3 separate regions of the Homo sapiens genome follow, and all the other regions are reported to be linked to region 1. The links are microRNA targets in miRTarBase. Many come from high-throughput screens and were not tested one by one. Region 1 holds a microRNA gene; each other region holds the end of a gene's coding sequence.

Evidence for each region. Region 1 holds the annotated microRNA hsa-miR-1245b-5p (UAGGCCUUUAGAUCACUUAAA, at 3,046-3,066, opposite strand). A microRNA usually pairs through its seed, bases 2 to 8, with sites in the 3' UTR of a target mRNA and lowers its output. Matches are read on the target gene's strand: a 7mer-m8 pairs with bases 2 to 8, a 7mer-A1 pairs with bases 2 to 7 and ends in A, and an 8mer does both.
Region 2: miRTarBase lists RAD54L2 as a target of hsa-miR-1245b-5p. Seed matches in the 3' UTR shown: 7mer-A1 at 3,270-3,276.
Region 3: the mRNA of CDV3 is a reported target of hsa-miR-1245b-5p. Seed matches in the 3' UTR shown: 7mer-m8 at 1,193-1,199.

Annotation. Positions count from the first base shown.
Region 1 is chr2:188,975,088-188,979,329 of GRCh38, forward strand. It overlaps MIR1245B (microRNA 1245b), which reads right to left and starts at 3,074; the gene lies at 3,006-3,074. The region is part of intron 1 of COL3A1 (collagen type III alpha 1 chain); the gene reads left to right. It overlaps MIR1245A (microRNA 1245a), which reads left to right and starts at 3,005; the gene lies at 3,005-3,074. All of the region lies in intron 1 of LOC105373791 (a long non-coding RNA gene), which reads right to left.
Region 2 is chr3:51,663,179-51,667,420 of GRCh38, forward strand. It overlaps RAD54L2 (RAD54 like 2), which reads left to right. Exons shown (of 23, transcript NM_015106.4): 23 at 1-4,242. The coding sequence ends at 242. Among named protein-coding and RNA genes, the nearest start is that of TEX264, 6.0 kb to the right of the region's middle. RefSeq lists an enhancer at 1-9.
Region 3 is chr3:133,587,670-133,591,911 of GRCh38, forward strand. It overlaps CDV3 (CDV3 homolog), which reads left to right. Exons shown (of 5, transcript NM_017548.5): 5 at 227-2,592. The coding sequence ends at 377. Among named protein-coding and RNA genes, the nearest start is that of CDV3, 16 kb to the left of the region's middle.

The sequences.
Region 1 (4,242 bases):
AGATACCTATAAACATTCTTCAAAGGGATCAAACTGCTAAAATATTTTATTATTCCTGTTTTTATTTTGTTTCAAGAATGATTGATTAATTCATCTTTTCTAGTAGCTTGATATTAAGGGACTAATATTTTCCACATATTCTACGTTTTAACCACATTCGCATTAATGAAGAAAATATTTTTTAAAATGTTTCAACAGGAGGTTTGACTTTGCTGCAAACAAGGTAAAGATACTAGTACTGTTTGACTTCAGAAAGCTGTTTTGCTATATTTTCTAATAATTGCATGTAATGTTTTTCATATTCTAATTTCCCCTAAAAACACATTTGTCTCATTATTTATGTGAAAATATTCTTTTATTTACCATAGTCATGAAAATGCTGAACAAATTGGAATACAAACTTCCATAGAAATAAATATTTAAGTGCTAAATGTAAAGATAGCTAGGAGAAATTATTAGACAATTTTTATTGCACATAACTAAACATGGTTACATTTAAACATATAGATTTTGCAAAGGACACTGCATGAAAATTTGGTTTTTGTTTGTAATATCAAATGTATTTGTTGTCCTCATAGCTAATACATGTAAATGTGTGTATGAGGGGAGGGGTAGATATACAATGAAATGTCTTCAGTTATATTCAGCCCATGGACACAAAAGAAAAGAAACACCCATTTTCCTTGTTCCCTTAATTTCCTCTCCTCCTTACCCCTCCTCTCCTTCGCTTTGCCCTCCTCCTTATCTCTCTCCACCCCTTTTGGCTCCTTTAGACTTCTCTTCACTCATCACCCCACCCCTTCCTAGGCAAGCCCATATCTACTCCTCTCTCCTCCTCTGTCTTCCCTGCCTGTTACTCCCTCCCTACTCCCCATGTGGCCTCCTTATGCCTCCATTTCTTTTTTTTAGTTCTCTCTCTCCTTGCCTCCTCACCCTTTCTTTCCCCTGAACTCTCAATCCTTCTTCCTTTCTCATTCCTCTCCCCTTTTCCTCCCTATCCTGCTCTTCCCAGGAGATGCTACAACTCACAGTCCTTTTTTAGGATACCAAATGACTACTATCCCCCACCAACCATTTATTGAAAAGACTACAAACTTAGGGGTTTTAGCTCAAAAAATTGCAACATATTTGTAGTTGCCTCGTGGTTGCAAGCTTTTTATAAGCACTGTGGCTATTTTTCTTCCCAATCCAACTTTAGTGGGGGGGTGTTTGCCACTTACAGTACCTTGACATCACATTAAGTTCTGTTTATTTCCCTCTTTCTCTTTAGATGCAAAAAATAATCAATAAGTATAAAATTTTGCTGATATGTGTTTGTGTGTTCTTAAGCTCAAAAAGAGTTGAAAGAGAACTGTTCAGCCTATTTTTTTTGTCATGAGTAAAAGTAAAGTTGAAGTGACTTAAGACAGTACATCTTATGTTCCCTGTGGGTTTTACAAGGAAATTCTGCTATTAGATAAGCTTTGGAAAAGTTACAGGAGGTATCTGAATATACAGCACACTGAGAGCTGTCATAAAGTTCTGGGGTGGGGTTTCTTATATATGCCCTCATAACTTCAGAGACGGCACAGCTCTAATGAACACTCACTTCTAGTTCACTCACAGGCATTTTCTGGATACAAACAAGTCCTCAAAAAGAATTTTGGTCGTCTTACAAATTTGTGAACATTGTATTTAATTCATGTGTTTTAATCCACCAATGGAGAAACATAGTCTGTTTTATATTTCCTGTAGATTATAAACATGCCAAGTTTTAAGTACAAAGATGCGTCACCTAGTGGCTGACAAGCCAGGTTACCATTTACATAACGAATGCCAATATTAATGTTATGTAGCTGGCTTTGGTAGTTTATAATGAGCTTTAAAAAATTCATATGCGTGAATTTTAAATGTTAACACTGCTCTCCTAAGGAAATTAGTATGTTACGGATAAATATTGCAAACACATATACTGACACGAAAACACAATGGTAACAATATTCAGAGTCTTTTTGGAAATTAGCTTAAATGTTACGGCCACTTAAAAATTCTACATATGACTATTGTTTAAATACATTTTTCATGTCTCTGATGTAGTCCTTATTTGACATAAGTATTTTATTCACTGCTTAATTGTTAGATAGATTATAGACAGCTGTTACTAAGTAATACTGCTCCATTAGGGCAGAAACAGAAACTTTATTTTAATTAAATGTGTACTAATGTTTGAGTTTCTATATTTTGCTACAGTGATAATTCCAGTAAAATAAACTGTAGGCCTCTAGTTGTTTTAGAATTTTAAAACTGTAAATGGACTCAGAGAATCAGTTTCTTATTAGACGTCATGAGAGTATATTTTTTTCATTATGCTTTAAGAGGGAATTTGTAACTTGCTCAGGTAACATTCAAGTTTTCTGGTTTGTGTTTGTCCCTACAATTAAACACACTGAACTAACAGGAAAAGGTTACATACATTTAGGAACAATTGCACTTTTAAAGGGAGAGAATGCATAGTTGCTCACATATCTCAGTGTCAGTCACCTAACATGGATCAGTGCTTTATTTGAGATTACAAAACTAGAAAATGACGGAGTCAAGGCTAGGACCAATATTCTGTTCAGTCTTAGATAATTATAGAATACACATTAAAATCAGATATTTGAATTTTCTTAATTTTGTAACTATTTGTCATTGAAAGGAGATACTAAAAAAATTATATATCGTCCTAGAAAGTACATGAACTAATAATGCATTTCTAAAGGTGAAAAAAGAATAGGTATTTTTCTGTTTAATATTCAATTTTATAGAGAGTAGTACGTTAATTTTTTTAAACCCCAGAAGCTCAGGATCTTATCATTTTAAAAGAAATTATCACCAGTTCTGTGTGAGTAAATAAAGTATTATAACACTTTGTGTTTTTCATCCATGATACCTTGTATTTACTTACCTGAGCTTTTTTTCTAGGGAAAGAAAAATGCTCAGGTAATAACAGAGCCTTGAAAAATTTGGATTTTCAAAACTACCTATTTATGTATAGGCCTTTAGATCATCTGATGTTGAATACTCTTTAAGTGATCTAAAGGCCTACATATAAAAAGGTATTTTTATTAAATTCTGGAATTAAACATTTCAGCATTACAAGAAAAGAAAGCAAATCCACTGGAACAATTCTGGGAAAGAAGGAAAGACTGTGATTAAATGCCTCTTAACTACTTCAGATTCCTGGATTGATGTCTTATCTACAGGCTTCTTTTTAAAAATCAAGAATGATTGGCTGTGAGTTTACCAGGATTATAGTTGAGGCTAAAGGACAGCTCCTCAGGAAAGCCCCTGTTCTACATCTACGGTCACATGCTGGACCTTGAGTTGTCACTCAGAGAAAAGAGTGCCATCTACCGAAACTCCACAGTTTCCATTGTGAATGGCTTCTTTGGTGCAGAGTTCCAAAAATTATGTAGCCCAGCTCTTTAATTTTGTAACATCTAATGATATCACCGCCTTGAAGTGATTAAAGTAGATTGCTTAAAGAATTAAAGCTTTAAAGATGAAAGATGTTATTGCTTTTGCTGGACATGAGGAACAGTTGTAAAGTTTCCAGGTCTACAATAACTTTCTGGAACCCTCTCAGTGAACTGTTTCTTGTAAAAGTTTTCCCTAAGATAAAAGCTCAATCCCATTGTTTCCACACTCAAAAAAAAAAAAAAAAAAAAGATCATATAGTGTAAAAAAAAACTCTCCAGACTTTTCAAAGGGGAAACTTTGCCTGTTTCATGTCAAGATGACAACGGAAAAAATGAGATAGCTATTCTTACATAAATCATTTGTGAACTGCAGTTGGGGGAGTTACATTAACCACCAGAGTTTCAGTCTGTGTCTAATGAAAACACAGCAGAAGTGGATTCCTTTCAGATTAACTAATAAAACCCTTGTTTTTTTCCATGACTGAGGTCAAGCACTGCTGTTTAAAATGTAGTCTTAATGAACAAAATGAAACGTTGAAAGAGGACGAGTCAAAATGCCCAAAAGATGTAAACATCAAAGAGAAAAGATCCAGAAATTATTAAAAGTTAAACTTCCCTTGAATTCTAGTATTAAGAAAGTACTGCTTCAGTAAAATGGCATATATTTTTCTGAAACTGTTTTTCTATAGTATTTTGTGTGGAGGATGACAGAGACTGCATTTCTCAAGTAAATTAAAATCACAGAAATACTCTTTGGAGTTGCATAGCATGTTCACAACGTTCCAGTTTCATTCAGTGAAAA
Region 2 (4,242 bases), not on the chromosome of region 1:
AGCCACTCCTGTCCGAGCCGAGGATGTTTGCGCCTTTTCCTTCCCCTGTCTTGCCCAGCAACCTTTCGCGGGGCATGTCTATCTATCCAGGCTACATGTCCCCACATGCAGGCTACCCAGCTGGTGGCCTCCTACGGTCCCAGGTGCCTCCATTTGACTCTCATGAGGTTGCCGAGGTTGGGTTCAGCTCCAATGATGATGAGGATAAAGACGATGATGTGATAGAGGTCACTGGGAAATAGCTAGGGAGCCCCTCCCCACCTCACTTGGGGCCCCCAGCAGGTTGCCCACCAAGCTGAAAGGCAGTGATTTAGACCTTTTGAGAATAGGACACTTGGCAGGAGGGAAAAGGAAGAGGACAAAGGAGGGTGGTTGGCCAAAGTGGCAGAGCTCTGTTGCTGTTTAACAAAAGAGGCAAAAAAAAAAAAAAAAAAAAAAAAGTCCAACACAGCAGCAATAGCGGGAAATCAGGGACCCAAAACAGGGATGGAGGGGCAGTGCAGCCTCTTTTCCTTCCTGCCTTGCTTATGCTGTCTGCTTGCTTGCTCGCCCATCTGAGTGTAGAAGCGCACATCCCATTTCTGTCTTTGGGAACATTCTTTCCCAAGAGAGCTGCCTTACTAGGTGACTTAGCTTGGCCTGGGGAGGGGAGTGAAGGAAGGGAGAATGAGTGAGAGAAGGAGGGTGGGTAGGGGGAGCAGACTGTGATCCCATGTGAAGTGGGGTCTTTTTAGGGGGTGGGAAGGAAGCTGACCAGGTATGTGTGTTTGTGAGTGTGTGTGTGTATGTTTATTTTGTATGTGTATGTATGGAACAGAGCAGGGGTGAAGGTGGGAGGGGAGGGAGGGAAGAACTAAGAGGGAAACTGAAAAATGAATTTATCTTTCTTTAAATGGAAGTCAGTTTGGTGGTTCATGGCACCTAGTGTGAACATCAGGGTGAGCCCAGAAGAGCCATGGAAATAACAAGTTTCCTTCGGGATGGGTGAAGAGAAGGCCCAGCTAACTCAAGTCCCTGGTATTCAGAGCCACATTTGTGTGAGAATTTGGGGAAATTCATGAGAGAAAATGGGCATTACCAATCTATGTCTCTTAACCCCGGTGGCTATCTCTGAGCAGCTCTCCCTTTCCAGCTTGGAAGGTTGTCTGTGTGCAGAGGCTGGGAGGGAGAAGCACTGCAGTACGTGAATGAAAGGTCGCAGAGTTGTGGCTGGAAAATACATTTTTCACCAGGGTAGAACTGAGCCCCCAGCTGCCTATCCTGGTAGTCTTTTCTGTTCCTTTCCTTCCCCTTTAGAGAGCTCCATGTTAATTTATTTCTTATGGGCAATTATTTATTACTTGGACTTTTCATGTGTCTTGTTTATTTGGGGGTGGGGGGAGGTTAGGGGTAAGGAGGGTAGGTGATAGAAAGGGAAGTTTTAAGATATCCCAGACCCTATAGCCACTGGTGAAAAACAATCCTGGATGGATGGTAAATTGACCAGGGGAAGAGTTAGGTTTGACCAAGGTTTGGATTAAACAACTATATTTTTGAGAGATGGCTTTTCAGGAAGATCAGGGAATCCTGAGACTGGATAGTTAGTGGAGGGTGGGACTCATTCCACAGAAATCGAAAGTTGTGATCATGGAGTTTGCAATTGGGAAGTAAGAGACCCCAGATTTGGAGCTGTGTCCTCCTGGGATGATGTTAGATGTTGGCTCTCTATGCTGAATAGTGAAGCTGTGGATAGGCGGTTGCTGGGTTGAGGGACTGTTGATTTCATGTTCGAAAATATCTTCAGGTGGTCCATGTAGGCCTGGTGTCTGCTGCCTCCATCTTTGAAGGAACATGGAGGAGCCCTTTCTCTGTAGGAGCCCTAAGTCTGGGTTTTATCTTAAAAGAACACACCAGTCATTCTGGGTCTCCCCTTATTGCCATTGCCAGGGGAGGGTCGTCTAGTCCTTAAGCATAAACACTGGCTGTCTTCCTACTGGTGTCCCCGCCCCCTCTGTATCCCCCACCCCAACACTTTGCCAGACAGTTCTTTATGATGAACAAACTTTGGCTTTAGAGCTTTACCACTTACCCATGGCTCCCTCCTTACTGGGCAGGTGGTGTACCTGCCTCTTCCCAGCCCAGAAGGCAGCTTAGTCAGGTCATCCCAGTAGTAGCTCCTACAGCTCTTCTGACCAGCCCATTTCCATCTTTGGAGGGCCTTAGCAGACTCTGGGGTATTGTCCTCAGAGAAGAGACAAGGAGATGATGGATGGGGTGCATGTGTATATGTGTGTTTGTCTGCTGTCCAATAACACCAAAAGTGGAACTTAAGAAGCTTTGTGTTTTCATAAGCACCCTGCCAGACACTTAACTCTTCTACTCATGGAAGCCTTAGATCTACAATTTAGCTATGCAAATTATTTTAATAATTTAAAAATAGCAGTTCCAACCAGTGCTTTCTCTTTCAGATGCATCCCAAGAATGGATGGTGAAGGGACTCAGTTGGAGTGAGCTCTCAGGTTGAGGCTGGTGCAGTAGGAGTGAGCTAGACTGAATCTCCAATTTATGGGACACACTCAGAACCTGGGTTACACTGATGCCTCTCAGGCCCTGGAGCACTGGGATCCCAGAGATGCATGTGTGCATGTGTATGTCTGTGTGTGTGTGTTGTCGGGAGAAGGGGGTAGTATTTCTGTGTTCACTTCTAGGAAATCACTGTACTAGCCTCCAAGAATCCGGAAACCTTCCCAGCCGGGAACTGAAACCATTCCCTGGAGGGATGGGCTTGGCTTTTGAAGTTGACAGAAAGTAAATGGGTATTCTGAGAGGCAGCACATGCCTACTGTCTATCCAGTGTTCCAGGGACTGGGTCTTGCTTCTACTCAGCAGAGGCCATCATTCTGGGAGGCTGACCTGACTAGAGAAGGCTTTCTTTTATATGTGCAGTTTCTATTGTGTAGAGGGGTTGGGGGTGGGATCATGGGAAATTGGAGTGCTACCAGGTCCATGGTTTTTGCTTTTTTTTTTTTTTTTTTTTTTTTTTTTTTTTTTTAAAGAAAATAACCTGAAAACACTTCTGACTTTTCCACTGTCTCTTTATATGTGCTGATAGGCAAATGTGCATGCACACCAAACATAAGCATGTTTGTGAGGGAAGCAGGAAGTATCTCAGAGCCTAAGAACCATGTTTTATAGTTTCTTTGATCATAAACACTTGGTGGTGTCTTCCACCCATTATCCAGGCCTGAGGGGGGCAGGGTGGCTGGTGATAAGAGGGAGGGCAGAAAATCAGGCCTAGGCGTTTTCCCTTACCATTGTCTTCCATGGAATGTTTTCAAGGGCCTCTCAAGCCCCATTCATCTGGTTTAGCCAAGTTCTCAGCCTGGGGAACACAGTACTACTTAATGATTGAGGTTTACCATTTATAGTGATGCTTGATTTCCTTTTCTTAATATATTTGTAGATAAAAATTGAACAGGGACAAAGTAGCTATTTAAGAAAGGAAGTGAACCATGTTGGGTCATATCATTTTCTTTAGATTGGATATCTATGAAGTCCACACCCCTTTGAGTTATGCTTTTTAGGCATCTATCTCATCATCTCCTGATTTAAGGATAATTCTGTCTGGTCCTTGGAGCTCTCTTCCCTAGGAATTAGTGTGTGGAGTCTCTATATGCTTGTGATCCTTGGAGCTCTCTTCCCTAGGAATTAGTGTGTGGAGTCTCTATATGCTTGTGATTCACAACTAAATATGAAATTTCTCAATTCAGGAGCAGGAAGCAAAGTGCTGGGGTACAGTTTTGCAGATTGGTTGAAACACTTAGCCAAACTTAAGTGGCCTGGGTAGGACCATCACTCCCAAAGTTGTCAGCAGAGAAGGGCCCTCTGTGTGAGTCTATTCAAACCTGGCATTGCTCTGAAATTGAGTCCTCATCCCATGGGGAAGGTCTTCTGGGGGCTTTACATTCCTTGTTACTAGTGTTCTGGATATTACCTTCTGCTTCCCACTTCCTTTTTTTTTTTTTTGAGACAGAGTCTTGCTCTGTCACCCAGGCTTGAGTGCAATGGTGTGATCTTGGCTCCGTGCAACCTCCACTCCCGGTTTCAAGCGATCCTCCTGCCTCAGCCTCCCAAGTAGCTGGGATTACAGGTGCACACCACCATGCCCAGCTAATTTGTATATTTTTTAGTAGAGACGGGGTTTCACCACGTTGGCCAGGCTGGCCTTGAACTCCTGACCTCAAGTGATCCACCCTCCTCGGC
Region 3 (4,242 bases), not on the chromosome of region 1:
TACTGTTCAGTAGAAGATAGGACCCTAGAGCTTCAATACAGCGTTCTGTGTTTTCTGTTTGAATTGAAGCCTTAAAATGGTTTGATAAGGATTTTCTATATGCCTCCACTCCTACCCCTCCCCAGGATTCTTCTAAGGGGTGGCTTTTTTTTAAATTCAAGGACGAATATTTTCAAAAACCCTAGTGAAGAAGAAATATTTACTGATTACATTTCTTTTCCCTTAGGGATAAAGAAATGGAGAAGAGCTTTGAAGTAGTAAGACACAAAAATAGAGGTAGGGATGAGGTTTCAAAAAACCAGGCCCTTAAACTTCAGCTAGACAACCAATATGCTGTGCTTGAAAATCAGAAAAGCAGCCACTCACAATACAATTAAGGAATGGGCTTTGCTAACCCTTCTGAGGTAACTAGACTGCAGCTAACCACCACCAACAGCCATTCATCATCTGATCTCTGCTGGATCTACAGACACCGATGCAGACCACTCGATTTCATGACCGGCCCTATTGCACTATGGAAGTTAAAGTGTCACGACTGCTCTATGCATATTGGATTTAGGGGAATTTTCATTGTTACATAAATGTGTGAACTAGTTTCAACAGTGTTCTTTCATATTTACTCTGCAAATACAAAAAACCAAAACCTGCAGCCAGTGGTCATTTCAAAATCTTTTTATGTTCAGATACTGAGCCTTCATAAGGGTTGACTACCTCAGATTTGCTGCACTCATTGTGGACTTCATGTGGATCACAACTTCTGGATAAGAAGATTACAACTATTAAGTGTCGATGTGAACCTTGCAACCAGCTCTACTGGATTCTTATCAGAAATCCTGCATAAAAAGTCAGCCATCTGGGTTCTGATCTGCTGTAAAAGATGAAGATTTAAGTGACCTTAATTAACCTGTCCTGTGCCCTACCCTTAAGGAATACTCTCTGTAGTAGGCTGTTGTTATATTAGACTTCCTGGAACACACTGCTGAAAAGAACTGATGTGTTCAGATCATCTGTGTAGGGCTGTGATTTGTAATTTAAACTAATTGTATTCTGAGGTAACCACAAAATAAATTCAACCAAACTGGGGTCCACCAAGTGGGGGAAGGGGAAGGGAGAGAATAATCTTGGGGGTTTTTTTTTTTTGGTAATTTTTTTATTTGGATAGTGCTTTTTTGTTTTGTTTTTGTTCTGCATTAAGGCCTTTTTTGCTTTGACTTGAAATAAGTTCTTTGACAGAGCATATTGCTTGGTTAATTAAGTAACCTAAAGTATGCATTAGGATTGTGAAATGTCTCGTGAGTATGCCAATCCTGAGGGTGGAACCAAATAGCCTTTGATGAAAAGGGCAGTGGATTCTGGAGGCTCTACTTCAGGTGCTGCTATAATGCCTCATCTAATCAGGACTAAATTGTGTAGGAAACTGCAGTGGGAAGAATATGCTTTCTGCTCAGGCTAAGAGGGTCACTGATCTGTCCTTAGAAATTCAGAGTAACATGAGCAAAACCTCAGCTAAAACCCATTTAAGTGGCATGGATTGTGCATGATCTTTGATAAGAATTCCTCATGTACTTGTGCCTAGTTTTTCAAGGTATTGGCTGTTCTATAGATGCAGTGATTGTCCCAGCTAGCTCTGTTACCAGCCTTTTGGTGTGTCTTTATGTTCATTTGGAGAGTCAGGGCGAAAGACAGGTGATGTAGCACTTCTGTTTTTAATAATTATTGCTTAAAATACCTATTAATAGTTTTGGGTCATTTAAAGGGACTTGAGGAAGCTACCCAGGATTACAGAAGAGTGTCCACCTAACAAGATGGTCTGGCAGTTTCCTAGTTTTGTATCTGGTTCAATAGAAATATGTGAAAGTGGTAATGTCATCATTTGATGCAGAGTCCGGGTTTCTCTATAATAAATCCCTTTGCCAAATGCATGAGTTGCAGACTTGCTACTGGCAAGAGTGAAGCAAGTGGGTGAGTAAAACTATTTTGACGTGGGAGCGTTTTCAGATAGGAGTTTAGTCTTGACGAAAGTGTCCGTGCAGGAATTGGACTCCGAGGAGGGTTACAGTATCTCCTGACGGGACCTGCCACTCGCATCTGGGCAATGTTGACATTTGAGGTGGCAGGCAGGATGCCTGCCTTCTAATATATTTGGGTGAGTAACTGAGCCAGCCAAGGGAAGGTTGAATGATTAAATCAGAAATGGGATTCTTGGTAAACTGAAGACTTTTATTTGGGAATGAAAAACCTTAAAAAAATCTCTTCATCGTTGAACTGTGCATTTTCCCTGCATTTTTTCCCAACAAAATTTTGTTGGGGGTTATGTTACTGAAGAATGAACAGATGAGTAAGTGGAGGTGTTATGTAAAGGCATATTGTACTCGAAATCTGAAGACCTGCAGCAGATTTAAATTACAACTCTTGTTATAACTTTTTAAAAGATTGTGAAAATATCAAAATATAAATGAATCAAGTTTTAATATACTGTATGATGGGTGGATGAGGCTGTCCATTGTACCATTTGTTTGAATTCTCAGGCATGGTTTGGCAGTGCAAGAATTCTGTAACATTAACAAATTCAATAAAAAGTAAATATATGGATTTTGGACTGTAATGGTTATTTTAAAGCCTTATTCTGTCTTTGAAAATGGTGAGTTGAGGTCACACCTCTCTTGCTGTGGGAAGGTGAAGATGCTCTAAACTCAGGGGTGTACTTTTTTTTTTTTTTGAGACAGTTGCTCTGTCGCCCAGGCTGGAGTGCAGTGATGTGATCTTGGCTCACTGCAACCTCCGCCTCCCTGGTTCAAGCGATTCTCCTGCCTCAGCCTCCTGAATAGCTGGGATTACAGGCGTGCACCACCACACCCAGCTAACTTTTGTATTTTTAGTAGAGACGGGGTTTCACCATGTTGGCCAGGCTGGTCTTGAACTCCTGACCTCGTGTTGCACCTGCCTCGACCTCCCAAAGTGCTGGGATTACAGGCGTGAGCCACCGGGCCTGGCCAGGAGTGTACTTTCTGTTTCAGAAGTGTTTACAGAGTACTCAAGCATAAAAAAGACCGATGAGGATTTAGGCAAACCAAAGACAGTAAAAAAAGAAATAGAAAATTTAAAAAATACAACACGCATGAAAGTGGCTGCAAAGCTGTGACAAATATTTTTGGAAAACTTGAAATACACATTTGTCCTTGTTGCTGTATTAAATTTTGTTACCTTAAACTATGGCAAAGGAATCTAAAATCTTTATATAGACTAAGGATTTAAGGCTTTGTTCGATTAATCTTACAATTCTCAAAAACAGTAATTTTAAATTTCAGGATTTAGTTTGGATTATAGTCCCTCGATTTCTAAATTAGCAAAAGTATATTTCAGTCATTTTGGTAGTGGAGTTTAAATATGTAATGTTAACAATTTACTATTTGATTATTCTTTGTGCTTGATTGAGATCTTTTTTTTTTTTGACAACCTTATTTAAGATAGAACACACACACAAACTCACACTCTATCAGTCTTCCCTGCTTTAATTTCTTCTATAGTTTTAACTTTTTAGATAAAAGTCACTCTTTTCAAAAAGAAAAAAAGAGACAGGGTCTTGTGCTGGAGTGCAGTGGCGCAATCATAGTCCCCTGCAGCCTTTAACTCCTGGGATCAAGGAATCCTCCCGCTTCAGCCTGCTGAGTAGCTGGGATTAATGTGTGTGCTACCAAGCACTATTTTGTTTTTTAAGAGATGGGGTCTTGCTATGTTGCCCAGGCTGTTCTCAAGCTTCCTGGTCTCAAGCAGTCCTCCTCTGCGTCCCAAAGTGCTGGAATGTTTTACAGCCACTTTGGGAGCCACTACACCTGGCCAAAAGTCACCTTTTGAAGTGTACAATTTAAGAATTTCTTATATTCTCAAAGTTATGCAACCATCACCACTCTTAAAATTCTTGAACATTTTCATCACCCCAAAAAGAAATTCTATTGTTATTAGTCATCATTTTCTTCTTTCCTCCCAAATTCCTCAGTCCTAGGCAGCCACTATTGTATTGTCTCTAGTTTCTTTTTTCTGTTTTTTTTTTTTTTTTTTTTTTGAGACAGTCTTGCTGTCACCCAGGCTGGAGTGCAGTGGCACATTGTCAGCTCAATGCACCCTCCGCCTCCCGGATTCAAGTGATTCTCCTGCCTCAGCCTCCCCGAGTAGCTGGGATTACAGGCACCCACCACCACGACTGGCTAATTTTTGAATTTTTAATAGAGATGGGGTTTCACC